4 linked regions of the Homo sapiens genome follow. The protein of the gene in region 1 interacts with the protein of each later gene in a pairwise test. Each region holds a gene or a part of one and is shown in the gene's direction. Other genes may lie near its edges. The genes, in order: TXK, EFHC2, JRK and ZNF835.

What was found.
Region 2: the proteins of TXK (region 1) and EFHC2 interact in binary tests that used the Homo sapiens proteins (3 or more experiments, as listed by UniProt).
Region 3: the proteins of TXK (region 1) and JRK interact in binary tests that used the Homo sapiens proteins (3 or more experiments, as listed by UniProt).
Region 4: the proteins of TXK (region 1) and ZNF835 interact in binary tests that used the Homo sapiens proteins (3 or more experiments, as listed by UniProt).

What each region holds. Positions count from the first base shown.
Region 1 is NC_000004.12:48,067,634-48,075,403, reverse strand, and holds part of TXK (tyrosine-protein kinase TXK), read left to right. Parts: intron 1-1,350; coding exon 1,351-1,469; intron 1,470-3,729; coding exon 3,730-3,887; intron 3,888-7,698; coding exon 7,699-7,767; 3' UTR 7,768-7,770. UniProt on the Homo sapiens protein: Non-receptor tyrosine kinase that plays a redundant role with ITK in regulation of the adaptive immune response. Regulates the development, function and differentiation of conventional T-cells and nonconventional NKT-cells.
Region 2 is NC_000023.11:44,332,903-44,340,672, reverse strand, and holds part of EFHC2 (EF-hand domain-containing family member C2), read left to right. Parts: intron 1-7,770. UniProt on the Homo sapiens protein: Microtubule inner protein (MIP) part of the dynein-decorated doublet microtubules (DMTs) in cilia axoneme, which is required for motile cilia beating.
Region 3 is NC_000008.11:142,659,480-142,667,249, reverse strand, and holds part of JRK (jerky protein homolog), read left to right. Parts: exon of another isoform or gene 1-205; intron 206-729; 5' UTR 730-1,191; coding exon 1,192-2,898; 3' UTR 2,899-7,770. UniProt on the Homo sapiens protein: May bind DNA.
Region 4 is NC_000019.10:56,668,383-56,676,591, reverse strand, and holds the start of ZNF835 (zinc finger protein 835), read left to right. Parts: upstream 1-4,834; 5' UTR 4,835-5,016; exon of another isoform or gene 5,017-5,043; intron 5,044-8,209. UniProt on the Homo sapiens protein: May be involved in transcriptional regulation.

The sequences.
Region 1 (7,770 bases):
TGTGATTACAGGTGTGAGCAGTCTCACCTGGCCGGCGTTCTTTATGATTACAAAACTCCATGGTGTGATCTCAGATCTCATTTACCTAGGCACATCCACAGCCATTTGTTCACTGGCATCTTTCTGCCTTTCCAAGGGCTCCACCTGGGGAAAAGAGCACTGGTTCTGTGTCACTTTTAAATCCCACCAACCTAATGTGGGAGTAGGAGCTTCTTTCCTAAAGTACTTGGGCAGCCCTTTAGGGTACAAGATACAGGACCCTAACCCACTGATCTACTAATGTCTAGTACCCCCCTTTTCTTTCCCTTCTATTTCCCCCATTCCTCTTTTTGGGGGAAAAAGATCCCCCCAAAGCTCAGGGGATCTTTTTCTAGATAGTGGTGGTAATAGGGGTGGTGGTAGTGAGATCTCACTCCTGTTCATGGCCCATTTTCCAAGATATTTTGTTAATAACTCAATCTTTCTTCTCTGAAGAGCCTAGACTTGAAAAATTCAAAATCTATAAACAGTGGCTTTTCTCTCTTTGTTTTCTGTTAGTCATTCTTTACCTAAGTAGAATGACCTCTGACTCAATAAAGTGCTGACAGGTGGAGGGAGGTAGTGTATTTAAAAAAAAAGTGAGAGTATAGGGGCAGCATTAATAAATGCTGTGAAAACACTATATTGTATATTTAAGGGGCAACAAGCACAAGTTTATTTTTGTCTCTTCTCCTCAGTGTCTGACATTTGGACATCCCGGTGTACAATTCTCAAAAAAGAGAGAGGGTTCAACTTGTTATTTTTTTAAGGAGACGGTAGTTATTCTTGGTTTCTTTCCATATAGGGCCATTCTAGTGCATTAGAGATTTGTCATATCAGAAGCATTATGTTCATATACTTTTACTTTCCCCCCTTCTGTATGCCCCACAAAAAAACATGCACATGGAAGAAAATTCGACATCCAACTTTGAATCATTCATTTCCATTTTAAGAAGAGTGGTCTTTGTTTTCCCCACCCCTGGGAAGAGTGGTCTTTTATTTCCTTTTTATAATCTTGGTTGTTAGAGCCTTTAGCAGGCTTCTTTGTAGAGTTAAGAATTTACCATAATTAACATAAACAGTGAGCCATGTTTTGAACTGAAGCAGCATTATGATTTTCAGAGGTCCACGTAAAACAAATACAATTGAGACTTTGTTTGGGGAGGAAACATTATCAGGGACACTTTCACACTCTACTAACAAGAAGGCATCCACAACCTTTCTGGGGTAAAATACTTTGTCTTTTAGCAACTTAGAGTTAACTAAAGGGATTTGAAGTAAATAGAGCTTGGAGGTAATTAACACAATATGCTTTGAATCTGATAAACTTAGGTACGTTTTGGATGATGAGTATGTCAGTTCTTTTGGAGCCAAGTTCCCAATCAAGTGGTCCCCTCCTGAAGTTTTTCTTTTCAATAAGTACAGCAGTAAATCTGATGTCTGGTCATTTGGTGAGTGCATCTGATGTTCACTTGCTGGAGCTTGATTTAATAAAATGGGCAATGTGTTATTTTTAACTTTGATTTCCTAATTGATATAGCATTTTTTAAAAAGTCTTCTTGTAATTGTGCTTCCTTCTGTGTGTTCTAACCACATCCCGACTGTCTTTGGCAACTGGTGTCACATACCTTCTTACATAAGTCTGCCTTTTGGATCTTTTCCTTCCTCCATGGGCACTCACTATAAAACCATAACAAAGAGTCTACTGATCTAGAAAACAAACTCAGATAAGTTTTCCACTCCGCAGAGGCTTGAAGGAAAAATGATCTTATGACATTGTTTAGAGTGTAATTAATAAACTTAATTGTCTAAACTGTGAAGCAGGTTGACTATTTTCCAGTTGTTCAGTTGTTAACCTGAACTTAAAACCTGAGTTTAAAAAATGGTGGCATCTCATTTACTTCCTTAACTTTAAAGTTTGTGGAATTTAGACATAGGCTTCCTTGGGATCTATAAATTGATATTCATATTGGATAATGTTCTTCATTGAGAAAGAGACACCATAGACCCACGTCCAATGAAGTTTCGGGGTTGATTTTCAAAAAATGGTAATAAATATGCAAAAATCTATCTATCCTCTTTCACCCCAAACTTCCTGGAGGCTTGTGGGTTCTGGGTCCTCAGAAGGGTGTCAGTTTTATTGTCTACAATAAGGTTAAAACTGGGCACAGTGGCTCAGGCCTACAATTCCAGCACTTTGGGAGGCTGAAGTGGGAGGATTGTTTGAGACCAGGAGTTCAAGACTAGCCTGGGCAACCTAGCAAGACTCTGTCTTTACAAAAAAAAAAAAAAAATTAGCCAGGTGTGGTGGCATATACCTGTAGTCCCAGTTCCTCGGGAGGCTGAGGCAGGAGGATTGCTTGAGCCCAGGAGTTTGAGGTTATAGTAAGCTAGGATCGTGCCACTGTACTCCAGCCTGGATGACAGAGCAAGACCCTGCCTCAAAAAAATTAAAACATAAATTTAAAAACATACAATAAAGTTAAGCTTGTGTCATTAATCTCATTAGCTCTCCATGGACATATGATAGTCTCAGCAGGTGACACTTGAAGCTCTACTGAAGAGCAATTAGGTTGTGAGACCACATCTTAGAGACCAATGAAGAGCAATATAACGACCTCATCGAAGGTTGCCAAACAATTAGAACTCCCTGAATTTTACCTACTTGTCTCCCTCACTGAACAGTGAGCTCCTTAGGCACATGGATTGATCTCACACTTATAAAATCTCCAGGCCCCAGCAGAGGCCTCGCCTCTCATCAATGTCTAGTAAATATTTGTAGAATAAGTGAATAATTAAATGAACTCAAATTAGGAGTTCTTGCAGGAGTTTCACTAATCAATCAATCAATGATTATTGGACATCTACTTATGTACAGAGCCCCTGCTAGATATTCTGGGGCTCTGCCCATCAGTCTAATCTTTTAGCAGAAAGAAGGGGACACATGCCATTTACTGGCTGAAACTCTTGGCTAAGTAGGCAGCAGAGGCTCACATAATCCTGTCAGTTTCTATGGAATGGCAGAAAGGTTCATTGATTTCAGGATGCAGGAACGTGACTGCTGCTTAGAAATGAAAATGCTAGGCCGGGCGTGATGGCTTACGTTTGTAATTCCAGCACTTTGGGAGGCTGAGGTGGTCGAATCACCTGAGGTCAGAGCTCGAGACCAGCCTGGCCAACATGGTGAAACCCCGCCTCTACTAAAAATAGAAAAATTAGTTGGGCGTGGTGGTGGGCACCTATAATCCCAGCAACTCAGGAGGCTGAAGCAGAAGAATTGCTTGAACCCGGGAGACAGAGGTTGCAGTGAGCTGAGATCATGCCACTGCACTCCAGCCCGGTAGACAGAGGTTGCAGTGAGCTGAGATCATGCCACTGCACTCCAGCCCGGGCGACAGAGCGAGACCCTGTCTCAAAAAAAAAAAAAAAGAAAAGAAAATGCTACTGGCATTTTCTCCTGATAGGAGAGGCAATCAAGACCCATGGACAAGGAAAGGCATTGTTTTCACTTAGATTATTTTCAGGTTACAGGCCTCTTTGAAAACTAAAGTGAACATGATTTGCTTCCTTGACAGAACCGCTGTTATTCAGGATGGTTATAGCCCAAAGCCTGGAGCACAAAAATAATGCCTTGTAGTTTGAAATTGTTCTTTCAGTTCCCAAGCAATCATTTCTCTCTAACCCCTTGTTTTCCTGCATTTTTGTTTGCAGGAGTTTTAATGTGGGAAGTTTTTACAGAAGGAAAAATGCCTTTTGAAAATAAGTCAAATTTGCAAGTCGTGGAAGCTATTTCTGAAGGCTTCAGGCTATATCGCCCTCACCTGGCACCAATGTCCATATATGAAGTCATGTACAGCTGCTGGCATGAGGTAAGCATATGTTACTTTCCTATGAAGGTTGGCAGTCCCAGCATCTGAGAGCAGACCTGATTATCACAAACATTACTTCAGAACTCTGTCATGGCAGGAAAAGGCATCTGTGTCTTGGTCATGATCCTGAGAGTCTGAAGTACTATCTCAAACTCACTACAAAGTCATGAATCCATTTTGTTTTGAACAATGGCCTTTTATCTGAGGAATTCAGTGCATTTTCTGAGTCTTATCTGTTTGAGATTGGTTCTTGCAGAAACTCTTGGTGTTACTCAAGCCTCAGTGATTAGATGTTTTATTAGCTTTAAGAATTAATGGGCCGGGCGCAGTGACTCATGCCTGTAATCTCAGCACTTTGGGAGGCCGAGGCGGGTGGATCACCTGAGGTCAGGAGTTTGAGACCAGCCCAGCCAACGTGGTAAAACCCCATCTCTACTAAAAATACAAAAATTAGCCGGGCGTGGTGGTGCATGCCTGTAATCCCAGCTACTGGGGATGCTGAAGCAGGAGAAGAATCTTGAACCTGGGAGGCGGAGCTTGCAGTGAGCCGAGATGGCGCCACTGCACTCCAGCCTGGGCGACAGAGTGAGACTCCATCTCAAAAAAAAAAAAAAAAAAAAAAAGAATTAAATGATGGAGGCTGTGTGTGGTGGCTCACGCCTGTAACCCCAGCACTTTGGGAGGCCGAGGTGGCCAGATCACTTGAGGTCAGGAGTTTGAGACCAGCCTGGCCAACATGGTGAAACCCTGTCTCTACTAAAAATACAAAAATTAGCCAGGCCTGGTGGTGCATGCCTGTAATTCCAGCTACTTGGGAGGCGGAGATAGGAGAATTGCTCGAACCCAGGAGGCAAAGGCTACAGTGAGCTGAGATTGCGCCACTACACTCCAGCCTGGACAACAGAACAAGACTCTGTCTCAAAAAATAAATAAATAAATAAATAAGCAAATAAATAAAAGAATTAATGGTGGAAACTAAGGGTAGAACCAGGCTTGTTAAATTTCCAGGTTGAAAAAGAAAGATGGTGTTTCCATTTACTTCACTCAACTTTGCTTTGTCTTGCTTTTCCAACGCTAATAGTAATGGGTTTCATCTGTCTTCTGGCAGTCAGGACTCCTGCTACAGATTAAACTAGAATAGGAATGGAGGCAGAAAGTGTGTCAGGAACTTCCACTCAGGAAGAAATCTCTCCAGAACTTAGTTTTTCTATTTGTTGAAATGCCAAGCTTAGAAATAAAGCCAGAGGGGCTTCTTTTCCACCTCTGGGCACTGACTCAACACACCCCTGCCCTTCTCAGTGAAATTCCCTTTGATTTTGAGAGCTTTGGTCTCTTTCCAGCTGACAGTTTCAGCTGGAAATTGCAGCTTGATGAGAAGTTTCCTCCTGGCTGAAAAAATAAAGCACTTGATTATCAATCCACAAACACTAGAATATTGAATATTTTAAGAGTGATGTGGTTATTCATATTCCAAAAGCATTACATTTATAGAGAGCCCCAATGTATGAAAATATTTTACATATATTAACTACTTTACAAGGAATCTTGAAAGACATAGAAAAATGCTCAGCAAGCTGTAAGAAAAAAATGTTCAGAAAAATGTTCAGTGAGTAGTAATAAGCAGCCGTTTTAGGAGCATCTTTGCAATAACAATGTAAGTAGCTCAGAAGTATATGTTGTGTATGAAATAATACACACGTGTGTGTGTAATATAATGCTTATTGAGATGTTATATGTAAGTGGAACTGAGACATAGAAGGAGGAAGGGAAGTGATAAGTAGGATGCTGTCAGAAGGACCATGTAAACAACATTTGTCTCAAATTGCAATCAGAACATTGATTAATACAATGGTGTGGTTATGTCGATTTATTTGTTTGAAAAAGTTGATTTGGCCGGGTGTGGTGGCTCATGCTTGTAATCCCAGCACTTTGGGAGGCTGAGGTGGGCGAATCACGAGGCTGGGAGTTCGAGACCAGCCTGGCTAACATGGTGAAACCCCGTCTCTACTAAAAATACAAAAAAATTAGCTGGGCATGGTGGCGGGCACCTGTAATCCCAGCTACTCAGGAGGCTGAGGCAGGAGAATTGTTTGAACCTGGGAGGCAGAGGTTGCAGTGAGCCAAGATCCCACCATTGCACTCCAGCCTGGGTGACTGGGCCAGACTGTCTCAAAAAAAAAAAAAAAAAAAGAAAAGAAAAGATTGATTTATTTTTGAGACAGAGTCTTGCTCTGTTTCCCAGACTACAGTGCAGTGGCACAATCACATCTCACTGCAGCCTTGACCTCCTGGGCTTACGCAATCCGCCCAGCTCAGCCTCCTGAATAGCTGGGACTACAGTGATGTGCCACCATGACCAGCTAATTTTTTAAAATTTTTTCTAGAGATGGGGTCTCACTTTGTTGCCCAGGCCTCAAGCAGTCCTCCTACCTTGGCCTCCCAAAGTGCTGGGATTACAGATGTGAGTCATTATGTCAGGTGCAAAAGTTGATATTGCCTACAGCTTTACCCCATGTGCTTAGGGCATTAGAGTCAAACGTGATTATGCTATCTTTGAGAGACAAATTTCAGGATTCATGCGCAGAAACAGGCTCCTCACAGAGCTCCACAATTTATGCCCAGAGTCTCAATAAGGACCCTCACTTGCACTTGTGCTGTCTTCTGCTCTGTTTATTTTACTGATGCTCTCTGTTTATAAGCCATGAAGAGGGGTGTCTTTCCGCTGACCCTACTGTCAATGACCCCTGTGAGAATGTGGCTACTATGAGTAGCTCTGTTTCCCATGGTTTTAAAAGATGCTGACAGTGCCATCTCTTCTTCCTCTTGGAATCAGAGCTAAACCACACCCCTAAGTGAAGTAGGAAAAAATGCTCCAATCCTTGGCTCCATGACCAGGGATATGGGGTCACTTATGGTGAATATCTTCCTTTAGAGTTGCTGACTCAAAAACTGTGCAAAGATCACAGGCTTTTAAAACTTTTTAAAATGTAAGAATATTCAGCAATCATTTTTCTATGTGTGAGAGGGACTTCCACACTCTTATTTTTCTGTTGACTGAGACTGAAAGCACAACCTGTGCCCCAAGACCTTCAAAGTCCCTCATGAAAACATGCCTTTTGCTTTCTGACTGAAATCCTCCTTTCTATAATGGCTCAGGTGTCATAGATACCCTGAACTGAGCTTGGGAGCCTGGTATGCTAGATGCCCCTTCTCCCAGCCCTTTCTTTACCTCACACATGTCAAGTCATTCAAATATATCTCTAGGGTCGTGGTGTCCTAGAGTACTTTCTGAGATGCTGAAACGTTCTATATCTGTGCTGCCCAATATGGCAGCCACTTCTGGCTATTGGGTTCTTGAAAAGTGGCTAGCACGACTGAGTAACTGAATTTAAACATTTATATAATCTTAAGGAATTTAAATTTAAATAGCCACATGTGGCTAGTGTTTGCAGGTCTAGCCGTTTTATTTTTGCAACATTCTCTAACATTTTCATATTCACGCCTCACTCAACTGCCAATCATGCTGTGCTATGTCAGTCAGTCAAGATATCTTTCTCTTCCTTTTTGTGAAGAGCCAGCCTGGATTCAGGTCTCTGCCAGCAAGTTCCAGAGCTGGTCTCTGAGTGATCCTTAGCCTATTTATGCCGCAGGTGGCAATTTTTTGAATTTTTGCATGAGTGAAAAATCAGACCTTGGCGATGACCTCGAGCAGTGGGATATAAGTGACTCCCACATGCTTAGCGTTCCAAAAATGGAACCCTTGGCATAAGTTGGTTAAGCTGAGCTAACCACCCCCACTTCCCTTTTCCAGAAACCTGAAGGCCGCCCTACATTTGCCGAGCTGCTGCGGGCTGTCACAGAGATTGCGGAAACCTGGTGACCG
Region 2 (7,770 bases), on another chromosome or scaffold:
ACTGCTTTTTTTTTTAGACGGAGTCTTGCTCTGTTGCCCAGGCTGGAGTGCAGTGGTGCAATCTCGGCTCACTGCAACCTCCGCCTTCTGGCTTCAAGCGATTCTCCTGCCTCAGCCTCCCGAGTAGCTGGAATTACAGGCATGCGCCATCATGCCTGGCTAATTTTTTTTTTTTTAATTTTTAGTAGAGACGGGGTTTCACCATGTTGGCCAGGCTGGTCTTGAACTCCTGACTTCAGGCGATCCGCCCGCCTCAGCCTCCCAAAGTGCTGGGATTACAGGCGTGAGCCACCGTGCCTGGCTTTATTTGTATGACCATTTATTGGTCACTACTTTTTTGTGTAGTACTTACTTATCTCTTGTCTAATGTTTACTGGGTTGTCTGCCTATTTCTTAGTGATTTGTAGAAGTTCTATATAAATTTTGGGTATCTTCTTGTCTGTGATTGGCCTTTTCCTTCTCTTAATGATGTTTTTGATGAATAATTTTTGGAAAAGATCACTCTTTCTCCATGTCTCTGCAGAGCCACTTTGTCAAAAATCAAGCATCCAGCTACGTGTGGGTCTATTTCTAGACTCATGAATATTTAAAACATTTATTTACTTTATGCCTGAGAACAATGGGAGTGTGTGCGTGCATGTGTGTATGTGCGTGTGTACTAGAGAATGACAGTACCTTGGACTCATTCAACAAATCAGTATTTATTTATTGAGTATCCTAGTATATGCCAAAATTAGGTGACTACATTTAAAAAATTGTTACACTAGCCTTGGTACTAAATGTACTGTGTGTTGCCCACAAATTAATATTTTAAAAACTTGTACTTAGTTAAAAGATTGGATGTTCTCTGGCATAGAATGGTTAGAAAGTCAGTAAAGCCATATCTGGCCTTTTAGTCTTGCCCTTCCCCCCTCCCCTGCTTGCTGAATTAAATTACCAAGTGAAAAACCTTGGCCTCCTGTAGATAGCATAATTACTTGGCTGTTTGGATTTAAAATTATAACACAGCTAACTTTTATTGCTTTTCCATAGAATTGAAAAGGAACTTATGTGCCCCTTACTTAGCTGCCAGTGGTCAGTCAAAAGCAATAGATTGATTTCTGTCCACGGCTAGGTGATACGCAACCTGTATTTCTCTCTCTCAAATACAAGAAGTATGGTGCCTTCTAAAATATGAACATTTGTACCTCTGATGACATTACAATTATTTTGATATGAGTTGAAAACCTTAGGGAAATATCACAACTAAATTCTAGATACACTGTATCTTTTTTCCAACAATTTCCATGCTGAACTTGTATTGAGCAAGAGAATCTTGGGCATATTATCAAAATTGAAAATATTAAAATTAAAAGGGACATTTCCAGCCAAAGCCAAAAATCCTTTCTGCAGTATTTTGGACAGATGGTTGTGTGGCCCATCCTGATCCTGAGTGTCTCTAATGAATGATGAAGAGCTCACTCTTTCTGCTTTTTTTTTTTGGAGATGGAGTCTCGCTCTGTCACCCAGGCTGGAGCGCAATGGCGCCATCTCGGCTCACTGCAACCTCTGCCTCCCAGGTTCAATCGATTCTCCTGCCTCAGCCTCCTGAGTAGCTGGGATTACAGGTGTGTGCCACCACGCCTGGCTAATTTTTGTATTTTGAGTAGAATTGGGGTTTTACCATGTTGATCAGGCTGGTCTCGAACTCCTGACCTCAGTTGATCCACCCGCCTCAGCCTCCCAAAGTGCTGGGATTACAGGCGTGAGCCACCGCGCCTGGCCGCTCTTTCTGCTTTTAATGAAGCTACCTTGCCACCATCTTAGGAGGGTTTGCTGTAAATAGCCCATCATCTAATTTGTAGTGAAGCAAAGTCCTCCTTAAGAAAAAAGAAAACATATTTGAATTTGCAGCAATAAAAAAAAAAGGAATTTAATGAATCATGACCAGCTTTTTTTTTTTTTGAAAAGGAAAAAAGAAAAAGAAGAGAGTGGGGTAGAATGAAGAATTAGAGTGTATTATGCTTGAGAGGAGTTAAGTGTTGCACGGACCTTTTTGTCCTTCCTGTGTGTGCTTGTGTATGTATGTGAACTGGCCTGCACTAAAATATGCCTATTACTGTGGTTGTGCAATCAGTGTTTGAAAAACACTCATTCGAGCCATCTCCATCTTTTTTTTTTTGCGATAGGGTCTTGCTCTTTCTCCCAGGCTGGGGTGCAGTGGCAGGATCACAGCTCACAGTTCACTGCACGCAGCCTCAACCTCTCGGGCTCAAGACATCCTCCCACCTCTGTTGCCACAGTAGCTAGGACTACAGACATGCACCACCATACCCAGCTAATTTTTTAAATTATTATTTGTAGAGATGCGGTCTCACTGTATTGTCCAGACTGGGCAATTCTTATTTAAATTTAGATCTTCAGCTTCTTTCAAGGTCAGATCTCATCTCTCACCCTTCAAAGAGCCTTGTCAGCCTTTCTTAATGTATATTTTTAAATTTTTTGAGGTAAATTTCATGTAACATGAAATTAACCACTAACTATTTAAAAGTATACAATTCAGTGGTACTTGGTACATTCACACTGTTGTGCAACAACTAACACCTCTAACTAGTTTCAGAACATTTTCATCACCTCAAATCTCAATCTTTTCACCCTGGAGGAGTCTTTGAAATGATTTTGAGGTCTTAGAGAACTCCTGCATAAAAACTATATCTATAGCCCATGGTACATTAGCACAATCTGTGATAATAAATATGTAATTACATAAAAAGATGTTCAACATTATAGCTATTAGGGAAATAAGAATTAAAATCAAGATGAGATACCACTGTATACCTATTAAAATGGCTAAAATCCAAAACACAATACCAATTGCTCACATGGATTTGAAATAACAGGAATTCTCACTCATTGCTGGTGGGAATGCGAAATGGTAATTTCTTATAAAGTTAAACACACACCTGCCATATGGCCAGTTCCGAATTTATGTGAAATAAATAAATTCCCATAAATAATTCTGGGTTAAACTCAAAATAAGCACATATCAATTTCATTTTCAACTGGAATGAGAATATTGTAGCTATAATAATCCAATAATAATTGTCTTTTTAAAGTAAAAAATGGTAGTTTTCTGTGGATCTCTTGATTTCAGCCAACTTATTTACCTACTCTTTCCCTTTCTCACAAAGGGTTATCAACCCTAAAGCAAGTGGGAATGTAGAAGAGGAAACTTCAGGTTGTTTTATGGTAAAATTTTCTACTTGATTTATTTTTCCTTTTTACCTTATCCAAGTAGGCCTAAAAGTTCTCTATAGTTTCTATTATAGAGGGTGCTATTGAGGAATGATATATGGTATATGGTATGAACAAAAGTAGTTTTCTCCCCTATTAAAAACTGAAAAGGACTTTTTACCAGCTTTTTTGAGGGAAAAAAAACCCAAAACAGATAGTTAAACTTAGCTTACCTTTCTTTCCTTTCCATACATTCAAAAAACTTTTCAGTCAGCATAATATAAACATGTTAAATAATTCAAGTTATTTCTGTTTATATCTAAGATGGAATTTACTTTTTCAAAAAGTAGGCTAAGATGATTTAATTTAAATAAAGGTTGTAAACTCGTAATTAATGCTGTTTTCAACATCAAAATGTATTGACAATGTTACATAATAAAGCTACTAAAACTATATGACAAAGCATTATGAGTAAAAATATAACCTAAGATATAATTTTATACAAGACTTAAAAATTAGGTTCTTTTACTGACTGACATGATTGGGCTTAAATATAGGCAGTTACAAAATTATAATCTTGATTTCTTTATAGACCTGTATGTACATAACAGTCTTATTTTTTAAAAGCTAAAAATAAATAATAAAATTTACCTCTCCACTCTGAAATCTGTGTTTATATTTTGCCACATAAATAATTCCGGGTCAAGCTTGAAATAAGCACACATCAATTTCATTTTCAACTGGAATGAGAAGATTTCTGGCCTTTTCAATACTTGTTAAACAAGGAAAGCTTTGCTTACATGTATAAGAAGTTGAAAATTATAGCAAAATGGTCATTGCTCTCCTATGAATGGCAGGATGCTTACTTTTATGTAAATTTTGAACTGGCCATATGGTAGGTGTGTGTTTATCTTGATAAGAAATTACCATTTTGCATTCCCACCAGCAATGATTGAGAATTTCTGTTATTCCAAATCCTTGTAAGCAATTGGTATTGCCAGTGTTTTGGATTTTAGCCATTTTAATAGGTGTATAGTGGTATCTCCTCTTTTCTCTCTCTCTCTTTTTTTTTTTTGAGACTGAGTCTCACTCTGTCGCCCAGGGGAGTGTAGTGGCGCGATCTTGGCTCACTGCAACCCTCTGCCTCCCAGTTCAAGCTATTCTTCTGCCTCAGCCTCCCGAGTAGCTGAGATTACAGGTGTGTGCCACCACGCCCGGCTAATTTTTGTATTTTGGGTAGAGACGGGGTTTCACCATGTTGGCCAGGCTGGTCTTGAACTCCTGACCTCAGGTGATCCACCCACCTCGGCCTCCCAAAGTGCTGAGATTACAGGCCTGAGCCACCACACCCGGCCTGGTATCTCCTCTTGATTTTAATTTTTATTTCCCTAATGGCTATGATGTTGAACATCTTTTTATGTGCTTATTTGCCATCCGTATATCCCCTTTGGTGAAATGTCTGTTCGTGTCTTCTACTCATATTTAATTGGGGAGTTTCCTTACTTGAATTCCTGACCTCAGGCGATCCGCCTGATGAGTTTTGAAAGTCATTTTTAATATAGTCTGGATACAAGTTGGGTGCAAGTCTATTATTGAATGTATGGTCTGTAAATATTTTGTTCCAGTCTATGGCTTGAATTTTCATTCTCTTAAAGCAAGGCTAAAAAATATGTACATATATTTAAGGATAAAATATAACATGAGTTCAAAAACTATTGTTTTCAATGCAAATTAAGGATTATAGGGTTTTTACTTCTTTGATTTTATATATTTACATGTAATCTTGCTTCATAAGTACATTAGCTGAATTACTTATCCTAACATAAATAAAAATATACAACCATATAATAATTTTTAATTAATAATAACATTATTAACAATTTGAGTTTTGAAAATAGTTTAAGATTTCTTTATAGCTATTTCTGTTGTGAGAGTATATCCCACCAGGAATGTATAGTCAAATTACTGGGTTTTAGTTTCATTTAAATCATTGCTGTCGGTATGGTTAAGTCACCAACTCAGTATCTAGTTAGGTTCATTTGTTTCATTGTGCTTTTGTTTCTGAACTTAAAAAAAGGCATTTGTATGGTCTCAAAGTCAAATTTGCAAAGTAAGTTACTTTCAGAGAGCTCTAGCTTTTATCTCTGTCTCTTCAATCTTATTCTCTCCCTCTCTCCATAATAACTTAAAGAAAAAACTTTATTTAGTTTGAGGTTATCCTCTTTCTCTTCCTCCTTCTCTTCTTTCTTTTTTTTTTAATTTTTAAAACAGCAAATTGTTAAATTTATTCACATGTTCCCCTTTTATTCAATACTTGGTAGCATAATCTACACAGTCTTTTGAACCTTCCTTTTTTCATTTTAACAGTATATCTTGGAGATCACTTGGTAGTGGTATATAGGGCTCTTCCTCATTTCTTTTTATAGTTACATAGTACTCCATTTTGTAGACTTACAATAGTTTATTCAACCATCCCCTTTTGGTGTACAGTTACATTATTTCCAGTCTTTTGTTATCCAATAATGTTGCAATAAATAGCCAAACTGTGCTTCAAAAGACACTATCAGAAAAGTGAAAAAGCAGCTGACAGTGTGGGAGGAAATATTTATAAAGCATATTATCTGATAAGGGACTATATTCAGAATATGTAAATAACTCCCAAAACTCAATAATAAAAAGACAAATAGGCCAGGTGCGGTGGCTCATGCCTGTAATCCCAGCACTTTGGGAGGCTGAGGCAGGCGGATCACCTGAGGTCAGGAGTTTGAGACCAGCCTGACTAACATGGAGAAACCTGTCTCTACTAAAAATACAAAACTAGCCGGGCGTGGTGGCGCATGCCTGTAATCCCAGCTACTCGGGAGGCTGAGACAGGAGAATCACTTGAACCTGGGAGGCAGAGGTTGTGGTGAGCCGAGATCGCACCATTGCACTCCAGCCTGGGCAACAAGAGTGCAACTTCATTTCAAAAAGCCAACAAACAAACAAAAAGGCAAATAATCCAGTTTTGGTGGTATGGGATTGCTGGGCAGACAAAACAATTGCTGTCTACTATGCTAGATCACAGGATAGTTTTGATATAAAGAATTCTGTCACTTTGTTCCCAGTAACTATTAAAATATCCTTGAAATTACATTATTTCAGATTGGGCCGCTTATTGAAGCTGCCATCCATACTTTGGAAATAACATATTCCATTGCTATTCCTAAATGTTCATTTGAATTTCAGGAATTAGAGTCTCTTTGCCTATGTAGGATTCAAACACCTAATTTTGGTCACCATGCATTCTGTACTGAACTTCGTAGCTCTGTCACCTAGGGTACATTTGACTATAAGTCACAGAATACCTGACTAACAGTGGTTTAAGCCAAATTAATTTTCTCATAAGAACTTTAGAGGTGTAGCAGTTTCAGATTTAGGCAGTGACTGATGAATGTCATAAAGAACCCAGGCTCTTTTTATCTCTGCATTCTGCCATCTTCAGAATATTGGCTTTTCTTTCTTAGGCTTGTGACCTCATAGTTGCAAAATAGTTGCCTCAGTTCCAGTCATCACAACTACATGTAACCATGTTCAAGACAAGCAGGAAGGAGAGGGAGGGGAAACAGCTCTTCTTATATGAGAAAACAAAATGTTTTCCAGGAGCCCCCCAGTAGATTCCCTCCTTCCATCTTATTTGCTAAAATTGATGCACATGGCCATCCTTTACTACAAGGAATGCTGGGAAATTATCTTGTTTTTTTTTTCACCATCTACTTTTGGAGGTGGGAAAGGGAAAAGAGGGTTCAATAGTGGCCAACAAACTTTGTCACACCAGCCACAGACAATACCTGTGAGTCTGGTATTGTCAGACTTAGTAGTATCCCTTTCATTACAATTTGTGTTTTTAAATTATACAAGTAACACATGAGTATATCAATATTGCGAAGGATACCAAGAATACTGTTCTTTGTAAACTATCTTCTTTTCCATAATGGGAAACAAGCCTAATACTCCAGTTAATCCAGCATGTTCACTGTTTGTCCTTTGGGTATATTTTGGACTTTTCCACTCAATTATTAGTTTGTTTGTCCCCTTGCCTGATAGCAGCATCCTCATGCCTCTTCCTCTTCCCATCTAGATCCTGACCTTCCCTCAAAACTTGGCTTTAATCCCCCCTCCTCATTAAAGCCTTCCCCGATCATCTCAGCAAGAACCATCTGTCTACATAAGCTTGCATGCTCATATTGCCCATTTACCGCCTTATTTCCTGCGTTGTGTTTTGTGTTCTTTATGTGTGATCGTGGCAGTCCTCAGTTGACTAAGAAACTGTGATTGGTGGCTCTTTGGGTTGCCCTTCACGTTCTCAGTGCCTTCCTTACACAAACCGGGTCCTTAATAGGTGATTGTCCATTGCTGCCTCTACCTGCAGCAACCATGGTTGAAACATAGATGGAAATAAACACAGCTTGGGGGAATCTTCTCTGGAATTAGTTTCCTGCTTATGTCTTCCGCTGCTGCTGTGGAACAAAATAGTTCTTGTTTTAGCAATAGTGAATATAAAGGATGAAGAAAGTC
Region 3 (7,770 bases), on another chromosome or scaffold:
TCTGTCTGCTGCGGCTCCTTGTAGACGCATCTGAGTGTGTGGCAGTCAGGGAGGTCAGAGGGTGATTGAGAAACTGGCAGCACCTCCTAGCCCTTGGAGGAGCTTGAGGCCTGCTGTTCTAGAGAAACTTCTAATGCCTTGTTTTCTAGAGGCAGTTTGGCGCTCTGTGTCGGAGAGAGGAGTTTAGAGACCTGCTCCAGATGGGGTTTGTAAGATCTTTGGCGGGGAGGGTAGTGAGGAGTTCCTCCTCCCTGCATCCCTCCACCCCTGCCTCTGCTCCTCAGGGAGGAATAAGGGATTTGAGAAGCTCAGGTAGCCCAGCGAGCAGTTACAGCAAGAAGCTTAGGCTGGGCGGGTGGGAGGTTTGTTCTTGGGTCCGCCCAGCATCGGACTTCCTGGCTTCCTCTGATGGCTTCTGCCTGAGCGCTTCCCCAGGAAAGGCCGGGCTGCTCCTATGAGAGCCACGTCTCGTTTCCAGCCCTAGCGAATGGCTTCAGTTTGCTTGGTGGGAGTTGGGCAGAGTCCACCTGAGCAGCACGTGCAGGGGCTGGGCAGGCTGGGCTGCTCCCGGGGCCACCCTCTCCCCACAGTGCATGCCAGCACTTGCATGGGTCCTCTCAACAGCCCTTGAGTTTCAGCTGGAGTGTCCCGGTGAGGAGAGTCGTGAGGACGCCATGTGTGTCCTGGGCGCGCCCCATCACTTTCCTCTCTGTTCCCTCTGCTTTCCAGCCCCTGAAGTGCTGTGCCTGGAGATACCATTGTGGACCCTGGAGAGGCACCTGCTGCTTATGCGGTAAAACCTCTACCACCCCAAACCTGGTCAGTTTGAGGGGAGCCGCTGCCATAGTATCCACAGAGAAGGCCGGAGTTCCAGCCGTGTGGAGCAGCAGAGGGGAGTCTGACAGGGTCACCTCCTCCACAGAGAGAATTGGCAGCTGACTGCACTGCCAGGAGCCAAGGCCTAGGTGTGTGGAGCCTGGAAGACCAGGGATACCTGAGGCAGGAGGTGCAGCGTGTGGAGTGAGAAACCCGAGAGGGACTGGGGCCTGTGCTCAGGATCAGCAGAGCAGGCAGGCAGAGTGGAGAGGGAGAGACGGAGCCCCAGAAGGGGAGCAGGAGGAGAGGGAAGTAGTGGCAGCAGCCCAGGCCAGGCGTGTGTCCTGCAAGTGCTAGGACCAGCCACCCCTCCCCATGGCCTCCAAGCCGGCTGCCGGGAAGAGCAGAGGGGAGAAGCGGAAGAGGGTGGTGCTGACACTGAAGGAGAAGATTGACATCTGCACGCGCCTGGAGAAGGGCGAGAGCCGGAAGGCACTGATGCAGGAGTACAATGTGGGCATGTCCACCCTCTACGACATCAGGGCCCACAAGGCGCAGCTGCTCCGGTTCTTCGCCAGCTCCGACTCCAACAAGGCGCTGGAGCAGCGGCGCACGCTGCACACGCCCAAGCTGGAGCACCTGGACCGCGTCCTGTACGAGTGGTTCCTGGGGAAGCGCTCCGAGGGCGTCCCCGTGTCAGGCCCCATGCTCATCGAGAAGGCCAAGGACTTCTACGAGCAGATGCAGCTCACTGAGCCCTGCGTGTTCTCCGGAGGGTGGCTTTGGCGCTTTAAGGCCAGACACGGCATTAAAAAGCTAGATGCATCCAGTGAAAAGCAGTCAGCCGACCACCAGGCCGCGGAGCAGTTCTGTGCGTTTTTCAGGAGCTTGGCTGCTGAGCACGGGCTGTCCGCCGAGCAGGTTTACAACGCTGATGAGACCGGCCTTTTCTGGCGGTGCCTGCCAAATCCCACTCCGGAAGGCGGGGCTGTGCCTGGCCCCAAGCAGGGCAAGGACCGGCTGACCGTGCTGATGTGTGCCAACGCCACGGGCTCCCACAGGCTCAAGCCCTTGGCCATCGGGAAGTGCAGCGGTCCCAGGGCTTTCAAAGGCATCCAGCACCTGCCCGTCGCCTATAAGGCCCAGGGGAACGCCTGGGTGGACAAGGAGATTTTTTCCGATTGGTTCCATCATATCTTTGTGCCCTCGGTGAGAGAGCACTTCAGAACCATAGGTTTGCCGGAAGACAGCAAAGCCGTTCTCTTGCTGGACAGCTCCCGGGCTCACCCGCAGGAGGCCGAGCTGGTGTCCAGTAACGTTTTCACCATCTTCCTGCCTGCCAGCGTGGCCTCATTGGTGCAGCCCATGGAGCAGGGCATTCGGAGAGATTTCATGAGGAACTTCATTAACCCTCCGGTCCCCCTGCAGGGCCCCCACGCCCGCTACAACATGAACGATGCCATATTCAGCGTGGCCTGTGCCTGGAACGCAGTCCCTAGCCACGTCTTCAGGCGGGCCTGGAGGAAGCTGTGGCCGTCGGTTGCGTTTGCCGAAGGCTCCTCCTCTGAGGAGGAGTTGGAGGCAGAGTGCTTCCCAGTGAAGCCCCACAACAAGTCCTTTGCACACATCCTGGAGCTTGTGAAGGAAGGCTCCTCCTGCCCGGGCCAGCTTCGCCAGCGCCAGGCCGCCAGCTGGGGGGTAGCGGGAAGGGAGGCAGAAGGGGGACGGCCCCCTGCTGCCACGTCGCCAGCAGAGGTTGTGTGGAGTTCAGAAAAGACTCCGAAAGCTGACCAGGACGGCAGAGGAGATCCTGGTGAGGGCGAGGAGGTGGCCTGGGAGCAGGCGGCCGTGGCCTTTGACGCAGTCCTGCGCTTTGCGGAGCGGCAGCCATGCTTCAGTGCGCAGGAAGTGGGGCAGCTGCGGGCGCTGCGTGCCGTGTTCCGGAGCCAGCAGCAGGTGAGGAGGCGGCGTGGTGCCCTCGGGGCTGTGGTCAAGGTTGAAGCCCTCCAGGAGGGCCCTGGTGGCTGTGGGGCCACAGCTCAGTCTCCCTTGCCCTGCTCATCCACAGCAGGTGACAACTGATGGCTTCTCTGCCCTGCCCTGGCCACTGGCCCTGTTTCTCCCCACACCCTGGAGTGGCATGGTCCTGTGCCCCGACCCCACCTGAGGCAGGAGGGCATGTGCAGACACTCAAGAGCCCTTCCAGGAGTGGGTCGCCCACGGGTGTGGCTCGGGTGCCCAGGACGGTCTGTGCCCGAGGTTCCTGTCAATACAGGTTTTATTTTATCACTTGCCGTGTCATCCGAAAGTGAGGAAATGTTTTGGAAGGGTCCACCCTAGCCTAGAACAAGCCAGAGCCGCACCCTGGCTGGAATGGGGGCCAGGCTGAGCCGATCTGGTCTCGTGTTCGCTGGCTGATCATTGCAGTATCAGAGGGTGGAGATGTCAGTCTGTCCACGTGGAGAGAAGTTGCCCTCCAGGCCGACAGGAGGCCATGCCCACCGCCCCTGGACAGGCTTCGTCTCAGAAGGCTCTATCTGCTGGGCTGGCGGCCATCCCCGTGTTGGGTGGACCCCGAGCACGGTTGCCTGAGGTCCGATGGCCCGAGAGCTGGGACTCAGTTCTTGGCCTGCTAGCGGCTGAACAGGCCGCACATCTCACTTCAGTTGTGGCCTCATTCAGCAGAATGACTCTGGAACCATCCTCTGTTACCCGCAGATCCTGTCCCATGGGCTCTGGCCCCAAGATGTTGGGGGGCCCCACGGAGAGTTGACTTGGTAGAGTTCCTTTCTGGGAAGAAAGTAGGAGTGGCTGACCAGGCCCTGCTCATCACCCGGATAGAGGACACGGACCCTGTGTGGTATTTTGGCATTTTGGCTCAGAGTCCAATGTACCATGTTGCCCAGAATTTCATACTTATGGCCTTTACATGAATACGTCTTGATCAGACATTCAGAGATTAGTCTTAGGTTTGCACGTAAGTCACTGAAAACAGTAAAACAGGCTGCTTAGATTTCTAGCAGTATGTGTGCTCTTATCCCCAGCTGTTAGCACGTTAGTAATACTTTTGGGGAGGAGTTGTCTGTCCTGGTCAGTTTTCACAGAGGCGGTTGTAAGAGGATGTGGTTATTTTCTCCATGTCTGTAGTTGCTTTGCGGCATCTCCATTTCACGGGCAACACTCACTGCCTGCAGCTGAGATTCCAGAACGCCCTGTGTCCACAGTGATTAGCCTCGTCTTTCAGCGAGCATAAAATAGGTGCATTGTCCTTTTCTTTTCTTGAGGCAGGGTCTCACTCTGTTGACCAGGCTGGAGTGAAGTGGTGTGATCCCAGCTCACTGCAGCCTCGACCTCCCTGGCTTGAGTGATCCTCCCGCCCCAGCCTCCTGAGTAGCTGGGACTAGAGGCACGCACCACCGCGCCTTTTTATTTTTTTTGTAGAGACAGGGTCTCACTGTGTTGCCCAGGCTGGTCTTGAACTCTTGGCCTCAAGCGATCCTCCTTCCTCATCCTTCTAAAGTGCTGGGATTACAGGTGTGAGCCACAGCACTCGGCCTAAATAGGTTTTTCTTGCTATGTTATTTTCAGTGCTTTGCCCTTGAATTCTTTTCCTCTCTTAAATTCATATCATTTGGCCGAGTCAGCACGTAGTTTGCATTCCAGCGTCTGCTGTTGATTCCACTGAAACCTCTGTTCTCATGAAGGAGAGGATTTGGCTCGCTGTGGTTTCTCGTACTTTCACATCTCTGTAGATACAGGGGCAAAAGTCATTGCTGACAGAGCCCTATCTATGTCCTGGAAGTGTGTGTTTCTTGCTTTGAATGCATGTGTGAAGATTATAAAAGCCAAATAGTTTTTAAAGATCTCGGTGCTGAACGACAGTCCCAGTTCCCATTTGTGTCCCATTGTCTTTGTGGTGTCACCCGCACTGTTTGCTTCATTGTCTGGGGAACTTCTGCACATCATGTACTTTGTGCCATTTCTGGGCTCACGTGTCACTCCTAATAGAGCCTCTTAACCAAGACTGCTGGATTGCAGCTGCTTGAGGCAACACAGGAGGTTAGAACATGTCCCGAGGGCTCTGAAACAGTAGGACATCCTGGGTGGGTGGAGCTGGGGAGGGCATGGGCAGGCCAGCTGGCCGAGCTCCTGGCTGGCTCTCCTGAGTCCTCTGGACATGGCTTGTCCCTGTCAGACTGTAGCTCTTCAGGACCTGAGCTCTTCCCGTTCTTGATCTGCTCTTGTGCTGACTGTGCTGGGCTGATGGGTAGGCGCTTGTCCCCAGTGAGTGGCTGTGTCCTCAGGGTGCCCCTCTTCCAGACCAACTGCAGCAAGGCCTGGAGCCTGACTCTAGGTGCAGCCCTTGTGGCTGGAATCCCTTGTGCCACCCAGGGGACTCGGGCCCTGCTCCTCCTGCAGCCCCTCCTCACCTGGGCTCGCTGCTGGAGTGAGGTTTTTAGGGAGCCCAGAGCGTACTCATCTCTGAGCTGCTGGGCCCAGCTGCCTGGTGCATACCTCTTGCCTCGGTCCTGTCCCCCAGAACGCTTTATGGAGACTGCCGTGTCCTCCGAGCACTTTGTTTTCACTTCCTGACCCGTCTCAGAAGCTCAAGTGGTTGAATGTTTTAGCCTCAGAATCTTTTTCCCCAAGCCCTCTCAGGTGGAGCCCCGCTGTACCAGACACCACAGCACAGCTCTGTGAGGCTGTGTCTCTTCACTCTGTTTCTGGGGCTGCTGAGGCCCCTGGGAAGCCCTGGAGCTTGCCAGAGCAGAGCGAGAAAGTCTCTGGTCCTGTTTAAATGCCTCCGCGTTTTATCTGTGAGCACCAGGCTGGAGCCACTCCCTGTCTTCTCACAGTGCCCCTGCAAGTTGCAGCCTCAGTTTTCCAGTGGCTCGTGGGGTAGCAGGTGCTGCGTCATATGGTTTGGGACCTCTGTGGCTGCTTCCAGCCTGCTAATAGAACCTCTTTCCACCACTGCCTTCATCTTTGGGGTGGCACCCCTGAGTGCTCAGGCCTGAGGGCGCTCCTGTGTCCTCACTCGGGACAGGCAGCCTCCACTCTGGGAGCTCCCATCCCTCGGGATGCCCAGGAGAGGCCATACTTTCAGGGTGGCATGGTGAATTCAGGGGTTAGGATGGGTAGGTGGTCTTTCAGCCCCTTCTACGTTGGGGTTGGTTTACAGAACACCTGTCCTGCCTGTGCCAGCCTGGCCTTCTGCGAGCACCCCAGGCACGCTGTCCTGGAAGTTGTCTGTCTCCTGCATAGGAGGGTCTAGAGCAGACCTTGCCCTGGGCCTGTCTGTGCGTGACTTCCATATGCTTCATTCGTGCTCAGCCATGGCTGAGCATGCGATGGAGAGCACCTGGACTGCCCCTGACGTCGCAGGCCACTGTTCTTATCCAGTGGGCCAAGTGATTGATTGCTAGTGGTGGAGTTGATTGGAAGAAAGGAAGTCGCAGCCCCTGCCCACGGCTTCCCCAGCTCGCTGGGGTTGGAGGACTGTCATCAGTTGTCCCCAGTTAAAGTCCATTTGGAGGAGGTTCAGGGTCCCAGTGGCTGGATGTGCTTGTGGAGGGACACGGTTTGAGGCAGGGGTTTGCAGAAGGTGTAGACTGCATCCATTCTTGGGAGGCTGTGGCACAGGGCAGCGACAACTTGGGACAAATCAAGACCCGTCCACACTGCACCTCAGGGACCTCACCTCACGCCCCACATAAATGTGCTTATTGGGGATCCGGGTGTGGTGGCTTCTGCCTGAAATCCCAGTACTCTGGAAGGCCACGGCAGGAGGATCACTTTAGTTCAGGAGTTTGAAACCAGCCTGGGCAACATAGGGAGACCCCATCTCTACAGAAAGTAAAAGAAAATGAGCCAGGTGTGGTGGCATGTGCCTGTAACCCCAGCTACTCAGGAGGCCGAGGCGGGAGGATCCCCAAGCCCAGGAGTTTGAGGCTGCAGTGAGTTATGGCCTCTGCACTCCAGCCTGGGTGACAGAGTGAGAGACCTAATCTCTAAAAACAAAAAATAACAAAATGTGCTTTGGGGTCAGGTGTGGAGATCAGGGTCGGGGAGGTCATGAGGTAGGTAGGGGTCAGGATGTGGACAGTCATGGGCTGGTGGGTGTGGCAGCCGTGAGGGGTGGGTGGTGGCCTGGGAGGCAGGGCCTGGGCAGGGCTTCTGCACTTCTGCTGCTTACCCAGCCCCCTCTGGGTTCGAGGACTCTCCTTGACAAGGGCTGAGCTCTCGGGCACTGCGTTGGACTCAGCTGCCTACTGGGAGGCTGGGGAGAATGGACCTGTGAGACCTTGTTTGTCCTCTTCCCTGCCCAGCTCTTGTAGACCCCAGGCCTGGCTGTCCGCAGGGCCAGGAGCTGCAGCCATGGCAGCCACCAGCCTCCCACATGAGCCCCAGCTCCCAGCCCCACACGCCCACTCCTTTGCCCATGTGGTGTCAGCTCTGGCCTCTGCTTCTACACATGGACCCTCAGACCTTGCACATCTGTTGTTTCCCTTGCAGGGCAGTGATGATGACATGAAATGAGGTGGGGTCACTCCTGTTTAGGGATGAGACTGGGGCCCAGGGAGGGGCAGGTGTGAAGTTGCTGAGGGCAGAGGGAGACCCAGGGCTACCTGCTCCTAATGACCAGCCTCACGTTCTCCACTGCTCACTCCCTGCTGTTCACCAGCTGCATGACCTTGAGCAGTGCACTCAACTGTAAACAGAGGTGAAAACACTCCTTTACCAACTGTTTTAGGGGCCACTCTTGTTTGAGGCCTTGAACCTCCTTTCAGTTCCGTGGTGGTCCTGAGCCTCTGAATCTGGGTATGGCCCCTGCTGGGTCCTGGTCTCTTAGGCAGCACGATGGCCTCCCTGCTCAAGGCCCTGCACCCAGGGGCAGATTGTGGGAGGCCCACTGGCCATGGCTGGGCCCTATCGCAGAGAGCCTGTCAGCAC
Region 4 (8,209 bases), on another chromosome or scaffold:
ACGGTGATCATGAACCAGGGAAAGCAAAGTACTCCAGCCTCTTGTGGGTTTTAGATTCAGGATGTGAGCTTAATGCCCCATTTTACCCATTGTGATGAGCCAAATTGTGCCCCACCACCAAATTTTATGTTGACGTCCTAACCCCCCATTCCTTGGAATGTGACTGTACTTGGAGATGGAGAAAGGGAATTAAGATAAAATGAGGTCATTAGCATGGGTCCCAAGTCCAATATGACTGACATTGTTTTTTGTTTTGTTTGTTTGTTTGTTTTTTGTTTGAGATGGAGTCTCAGTCTCTCGCCCAGGCTGGAGTGCAGTGGCGTGATCTCCACTCACTGCAACCTCCACCTCCCGGGTTCAAGCTATTCTGCTGCCTCAGCCTCCTGAGTAGCTGGAACTACAGGCATTTGCCACCACGCCTGGCTAATTTTTCTATTTTTTTTAGTAGAGATGGTGTTTCGCCATGTTGACCAGGCTGGTCTGGAACTCCTGACCTCAGGTGATCCACCCGCCTCAGCCTCCTAAGATGCTGGGATTACAAGTGTGGGCCACCACACCCGGCCCATGGCTGACATTCTTAAAAAAAAAAAAAAAAAAAAAAAAAAGAGTGTGGGAGAGATTAGGACACAGACACACACAGAGGGAAGACCATATGAAGACATGGGGAAGATGGTCGTCTGCCAGCCAAGGAGAGAGGCATCAGGGGAAACCAACCTTGGCCATAACTTGATCGTGAACTTCCATTCTTGAGAACTGTGAAGAAATAAGTTTCCATTGTTTAAGACCCTGGTCTGTGATGCTTTGTTATGGTGGCTCTAGAAAACTACTCCACCATCTGATCTCACGTTCCTCAACGTCACACTTTCATTTTCTTCCAGGGGGTGTTTAAGACTTAATGGAAGTGACCAAAGAAAACCACAGAAACCGGTTCCTGGAAGGAGCTGCCTGCCCTGGTTGCCAGAGCCTATAGCTGGGTCTAGAATCTTCCACCCCTGGGTAGAGGCTGCCTACTGGTGTGTGACAAACATAGCTGGGACATGGAGTCCCTGCCTCAGGGTCTCTGAAACGTTGTGTGGCCTGATTTGATTGTGCATTTCCTCAGCAGCCCAAGCCAGCATTTTCTGGGGACATTTTTGCCTGATTGTGAAGGTGTTTTCTTAGTGACCACAGAAGTACATTTTCTCCAGGCTAGGAAATGAAAGAGGCAAAGTGCTTTAAAGAGGCAAAGTGCTTTAAAGTGTAGGCCTGGCACAGTGGCTTATGCTTGTAATCCCAAGACCAGGAGGCCAAGGCAGGAGGATCGTTTGGGCCCAGGAGTTCAAGACCAGCCTGGGCAATATAGTGAGACCCTCATCTCTACAAAAACTAAAAAATAAAAATAAGTAAAAATAAATGTTAACACAGAGGAGGCATAGGCATCACACAGAGAGGGGTTCGAATCCCAGTTCCTCCACTTGCAACCTTCAAAATCACAGACAAAACACTTATCCTCCAGGAGCTTCCATCTCCCTGTGTGTCAAATGTGCGCTGCAATGTGCTTGACATGTAAAGAGACCATCTATCAGGTGCTAAGGCTACTGCAGCAAAGCACCGCCAACCTGTGGCTGCAGCAACAGACATTTATCGCCTCACGCTTCTGGAGGCTGGAAATCTGAAATCAGGGTGTAGGCAGGGATGGTTCCTTCTAAGAGCCATGAAGAAGAATTTGCTCCAGGCCTCTCTCCCTGGTTTGCAGATGGCGGCCTTCTCCCTGTGCCTCTACATATCATGTTCTCTCTATGCGTGTCTCTGCGTGCAAATGCACCCTTTTTATAAGGACAGCTGTCATTTTGGGTTATGGCCCACCCTATTTACTCATTTTAACTTTATTACCTCTGTAAAGAACCTGTCTCCAAATAAAGTCACATTCTGAGGAATAGGGGGTTAGCATTCCAACATATATTTGGGAGGGGGGTGAGCATAAATCAACCCCCAACAGGTAAATGTGGCTTTCTAAAGAAAATTGTCTTAAAAACCATATTTAAAGGAAATGAATATTTGAGTTGTTTCTGTTGTCCATCCTTTGAGGAAAATGTCCCTTCTCATGAAGCTTCCAGAAGGAAGAGGGAAGCACAGAATGCCTCTTGAGGTCTACGAATAAGTAAAATATGAACTGTAAATAAAGCATGTGTCATGGTTTAAGGGCAGCCGTGGGGCTACATAAAGTAATGTGGAATCTCACAATCAATGGCATGTTGGTTTAGTGAAATGCATTTTTTTTCCCATTCTATCTTCACAGATTTCTCTGCTTTTCCAATTATCTAAAAATGATCTCATGCCTATGTTTCCAATGGCCAAGGGAATAATTTAGGAAGGCTAACAGAATTCCTTCAGAGCAGGCACCTTAAAATAATGCCGGCCAATAGTAAATGCCATGTGCATGTCAACTATTAAAATTATTTAAGGCCGAGGTGGAAGGATTGGAGTTCAAGACTAGCCAGGGCAACATAGCGACACCTCATCTCTACAAAAAATAAAAGTTAAAAAAAAGTTAGCCAGTGTGGTGGCACATGCCTGCAATCTCAGCTACTCAGGAGGCTAAGATGGGAGGATCACTAGAGTTGGGGAGGTCGAGGATGCAGTGAGCCGTGATTGTACCACTGCACTCCAGCCTGTGCAACAAAGCGAAACTGTTTCTAAAAAATAAAACTCTCTCCTGCCTCTGCCAGGAGAGAGCTTGTTCCTCCAACCCCAGGAGGCCAGGCAAGCATGGACAGGAGCCAAGGGAGCAGGGTCATGAACTTTTTCATCTTTGCAAAGTGGGCACTTGGCATCAGGGTCCCATCACCAGAAAGCACCAAAGCCCCTGGCACCCCACCCACTCCATCCTACCCAGGGACCCCAAGTAGGCAACTGCTATGGCAGTGGGTCCAGCCCAGGCCGGCACTGCCAGCCTCCTCTCCCTGCAGTAGGCACCAGCTCTACCTCCCCCGGCAGGCAATGTCCTGGCTTCTCAGCCCAGCACCATCTGTTCCCCTAGACTTCTCAGGGGCCAGCCCAGTCTGGGCCACCCTTTCCCTCATCCTCGGCTCCCACACAGGTGACAGGCCCAGCAGATAGCTTCTCTCTGGGAAAGGTTGGATGCTGCCTTACATCCCCTTCTATCCCTCCTCCCATCCACACACACAGGCACCCACCCACACCAGGTCTGCTTGTTTCTCACATGTAGGGAGAGGGGGGGAGACCAACCCCTTTGTGTCTTTTGAAATACGAAGAAAAATGTGTGTTCAGGAGCATGACTCCAGTGCTGGGCTCTTGGGCCCAGTTCAGTCTGTCTTGTCTCAAATCTAGGCACTTTTGCTTCAATTTTATTTTTTTTAAGAAAACAAAAACAGAAATCTGCACTAATTTACCTGGTTCTTAGGAAAACTTTTTTTTATTTTTTACATTTTTTGGTGTCCGTTTGTATTGAATAATTTGCTACATTTGTAAAATGTAAGAGGTATATATAATATATGTATATTTCTAACGTAAAAACAATTTTTTTCTTTTCAAGATTTTTTCTTAAAAAGATGAGAGAAACATATTTTTTCAGGAAAAACAAACTTTAAAAAAAAAAGAGGAGAAATAAAACCTTTTCTCCCCTTTCCCCATCCTCTATCTATCCCTGTTTCCCAGGAACAAATCAAAAGGTGGATTATCTTCTGAAGAATGGAAACTGTTAGTCCAGAATGATGTCTTTTTCTCAATGCAGTGAGTTATAGATTCTCTAGTTTTCTCCCTAGGGATGGGAAGGGGGCATTGACGCAAGCCTGGAGAGGAGCCCGGGGAGCAGGGTCATGAAGTTTTTTCTTCAGTGAAGGAGGAATACAATCAAGGGTTTTGTATTCAGAATGTTGTGCAATATTTTGGAATAGGACATTGGTGTGTTTAGAGATTTTAGTTTAAAAACAAAACAAAAAGATTGATCAAATCTGTACAGTTTCTATTGTTCCAGATTTTTTAAAGTTTGTATTAAAAGCATGATACATAATAAAAATAAATAAATAAATAAAACTAAAAAGTAAAATGAAATTCTTCATCTATGTTAATGGATTTGCCACCTTCTTTGCCATAGACTGGAATGACATCAGCTACCTGAGACCAAAATAAAAGTGTGGGTTGCAAACCCTGGCACCTACCTTTTTAGATTCCGCAGCCTGCAGTAGGGACTTAGCCTGTCTGAACCTCAGCTTCCTTCTTTCTTCTTCTTTTTTTTTGAGACGAAGTCTCGCTCTGTCACCCAGGCTGGAGTGCAGTGGTGCGATCTCAGCTCACTGCAACCCTCGCCTCCCAGGTTCAAGCCATTCTCCCGCCTCAGCCTTCCAAGTAGCTGGAAGTGCATGCCACCATGCTCGGCTAATTTTTGTATTTTTAGTAGAGACGGGGGTTTCGCCATATTGGCCAGGCTGGTCTCGAACTCCTGACCTCAGGTGATCCACCCGCCTCGGCCTCCCTAAGCGCTGGGATGACAGGTGCCCGGACTCAAGTTCCTTCTTTCTAAGCCTGTGGGCTCGGCCTCATCCCCTGAGCAAGAAAAAAGTCCCACCCCTGAGTTACTGGAAGCGCCCACCGCCATGCACTGAGGCTGTAGTGGGCGGGGCTCGGGGCAGCAGCCCGGCGCTCCTCGGGCCCCCAGGGGTCAGCGCCCTGCGGACCTAGCGTGTGCAGACGCTTAGCCTTCTGGGAGTTGTAGTTTCGATGACCCAGGCTTTGCAAGCTTTAGTCGCGGTGCCGGCGAGCGCGCAGCGCCCCCTGGGAGTCGTAGTTCCTAAGAACCAGGCGGGCCCGATGCGCAGGCGCAGTCCACCCCGGCCTGGTGCGCGGGCTCCTCCGCAGCAGCAGAAGTCTTGACCTTAGCTCGTCTAAGGAAGGAGGCACCAGGGTCTGCGTTGGCCCAGGAGGACCCGAGACTGAGTAGAAGCGGAGCCGACTGCACCAGGCTAGGAGGGGGCCGGCCAGCGCGTTCGAAGGTGATACCGGGAGGCGAGAGCAACGGTGTGTAGTGTGCGCGTGTTCCTGCAGGTGTGTGACCGCGTGTGAGCCCGTCCCCGAGTGCCATTGTGTCTGCACCTGTTCACTTAGCGGTGTCAGCCCGTATAGGTGTGTGACTGCCTGTGAGCCCGTCCCTGAGTAACACAGCGTCTGCACCTGGTCACTCGACGGTACCAGCAGGTGCAGGTGTGTGACTGCCTGTGAGCCTGTCACTGCATCTGCACCTGCTTACTCGGCGGTGCCAGCCCGTCACTGTGTCTGTACCTGCTCACTTGGCGGTGCCAGGCCGTGCAGGTGTGTGACTGGCTGTGAGCCTGTCCCTGAGTGTCACAGCGTCTGCACCTGCTCACTCGACGGTACCAGCAGGTGCAGGTGTGTGACTGCCTGTGAGCCCGTCCCTGAGTGTCACAGCGTCTGCCCCTGCTCACTTGGCGGTGCCAGCCCATCACTGTGTCTGTACCTGCTCACTCGGCGGTGCCAGGCCTTGCAGGTGTGTGACTGCCTGTGAGCCCGTCCCCGAGTGTCACTGTGTCTGCACCTGCTCACTCAGTGGTGCCAGCCCAGGCAGGTGACTGCAGGTAAAGGCATGTAACACTTTATCGGTGTGTTATGTGCTCGTTCATGTGAAGCGGTGTCTGCATATCACAGCATGTCACATACACGTGTGGCTGCCTTTGGGCAAGTCTGAAAGTTCTCCTGGATGTGAGGTGTGTGACCCCACGTGTGCATGTCTGGGTGTGCCGCCGTGTAGGCTGGCTCGGCCCGTGTGCCTGCCAGCACAATGATGGGTGACCTGGCTGTGCGAGCCTGTAGAGTGCCGTGCTGTCTGAAGTGTGTGCATCTGCACATGATGGAGACGCTGCACATGTGGGCTTTGGCTATGCTGGAGCTCTATCCACCGAGTGTGACTGCACATGTGTCCAGCCATCCCCTGTGGGTGTGTCCCAGTAATGGCCGGCCTGTGTGGAGCAGGTGGCATGTGTGACCTTGTGCGTCTCTGTGCACCTCTTCACACAGGGAGCTACGTGTGGGGCTGGGTGTGTGTGTAGCTACGTGTGCCCGGGACCCTGTGTGCATGTGTGAGTGTGGCTGCAGGTGATGGCTTCCCACCTGCCTCCTTGCATGGGGGTTAGGAGGGCGACTGTGTGTCCCTGGATATGGGTTTGGGTGTCTCTGCATGTCTGTGTGTGTCTGGGCAGGTATGATTGTGTATGACCCTGTGTGTGTCAGAGTGTGATGTAATGCATGTGTCTTCCTGTGATCTTGTGATATAATAAGAAATATATGTTTAATCTTTATCCCCAGCTCCTGGTACCAGAGCCCCTAAAACCCTTGGAATTTCCTGAGTGACAGGGGTAGAAGGAGTGTCTTCTGCAACTCTTAATAAGCCCCCTGCAACCACACCTGTGTTTATGCTAATGGAGGACTCCTGATAGGCCCCCAAGTACATTTATGCTAATGGAGGACTCCTGATAGGCCCCCAAGTACATTTATGCTAATGGAGGACTCCTGATAGGCCCCCAAGTACATTTATGCTAATGGAGGACTCCTGGTAGGCCCCCAAGTACATTTATGCTAATGGAGGACTCCTGATAGGCCCCCAAGTACATTTATGCTAATGGAGGACTCCTGATAGGCCCCCAAGTACATTTATGCTAATGGAGGACTCCTGATAGGCCCCCAAGTACATTTATGCTAATGGAGGACTCCTGGTAGGCCCCCAAGTACATTTATGCTAATGGAGGACTCCTGATAGGCCCCCAAGTACATTTATGCTAATGGAGGACTCCTGATAGGCCCCCAAGTACATTTATGCTAATGGAGGACTCCTGGTAGACCCCCAAGTACATTTATGCTAATGGAGGACTCCTGATAGGCCCCCAAGTACATTTATGCTAATGGAGGACTCCTGATAGGCCCCCAAGTACATTTATGCTAATGGAGGACTCCTGGTAGGCCCCCAAGTACATTTATGCTAATGGAGGACTCCTGATAGGCCCCCAAGTACATTTATGCTAATGGAGGACTCCTGGTAGACCCCCAAGTACATTTATGCTAATGGAGGACTCCTGATAGGCCCCTAGGATGGGCTGGTTGCCACGGGAGCTAGCCCTGATGAGCATTCCAGCCTTCAGCCAGCCCCTACCTCCTGGGAGGGGAGAGGGCTGGAAGTTGAGTTCATCACCGATGGCCAGTGTCATCACACCTATGTCAGTCACGCCCGTGTCATGGAACCCCCATAACCACCCTAAACTTAGGGTTTGCCGAGCTCTGGGGCTGTCGAGCACCCAGAGAGGGCATGGTGCTCTGAGCTCCTCCTTATACCTTACCCTGTGTGTCTTCCATCTGGCTGTTCCTGAGTTGTATCCTTTATTGGAAACCAGTAACCGTAAATAAAGCATGTCCCTGAGTTCAATGAGCTATGTGAGCAAATCACCAAACCCAAGGAGGGGTTGAGGCAGTTTTATGGTTGGTAGCTGCCTGTGCCTCCCAGTCAGAGCAGATTGGAGACTTGGTTGTTGGTGTGGAGAAAGCCCACGTGTCAGAAGTGCTGGGAGTAGACAGCTTTCTTCTACTGCCCCCAAGCAAGCCTGTGTCTCCCCTTGGGCTCCTTTGTGTGTGCACAACACCCAGGTTTACCCAACCCCGCTGTGAACCCACCTGCCCTCCCCCTACACACGAGGTGGGTACCCCTGCACACTCCGGGGATGCCGGTGGACGTGGCACCTGAGCCGACCCAGCCTGGCCCCCACCAGCAAGTTCTTACCAGCACACGTGACTTCCTGTGTGAGCTGACCCCCACCCCACTCTACCGCATCTCCCCTGCCTTGCACCTCAGTTGCTCTGTCCAGCCCCACCCCCTTTACCTTTCCTCTGCCACCCTTGTCACCATCCTGCCCTGGGACCTTTGCACTTGCTGTGTTCTCCACCCTGAACACAAACATCATCACTCCCTCAGGGTCTCCTCTTGTCCTCTTGCTGAGGCACACGCTGCGGGAAGAGCATGTCAGGCAGAAAGAATAGCCCACACAAAAGCCCTGTCTTGACCAGGTGTGGTTGGTGGTGCCTGCCTGTGATCCAAGCCCTTTGGGAGGCTGAGGTGAGAGGATCACTTGAGCCAGGATTCCCAGGCTGCAGCGAGCTATGATTGCAACACTGCACTCCAGCCTGAGCAACAGAGCAAGACCCTGTCTCA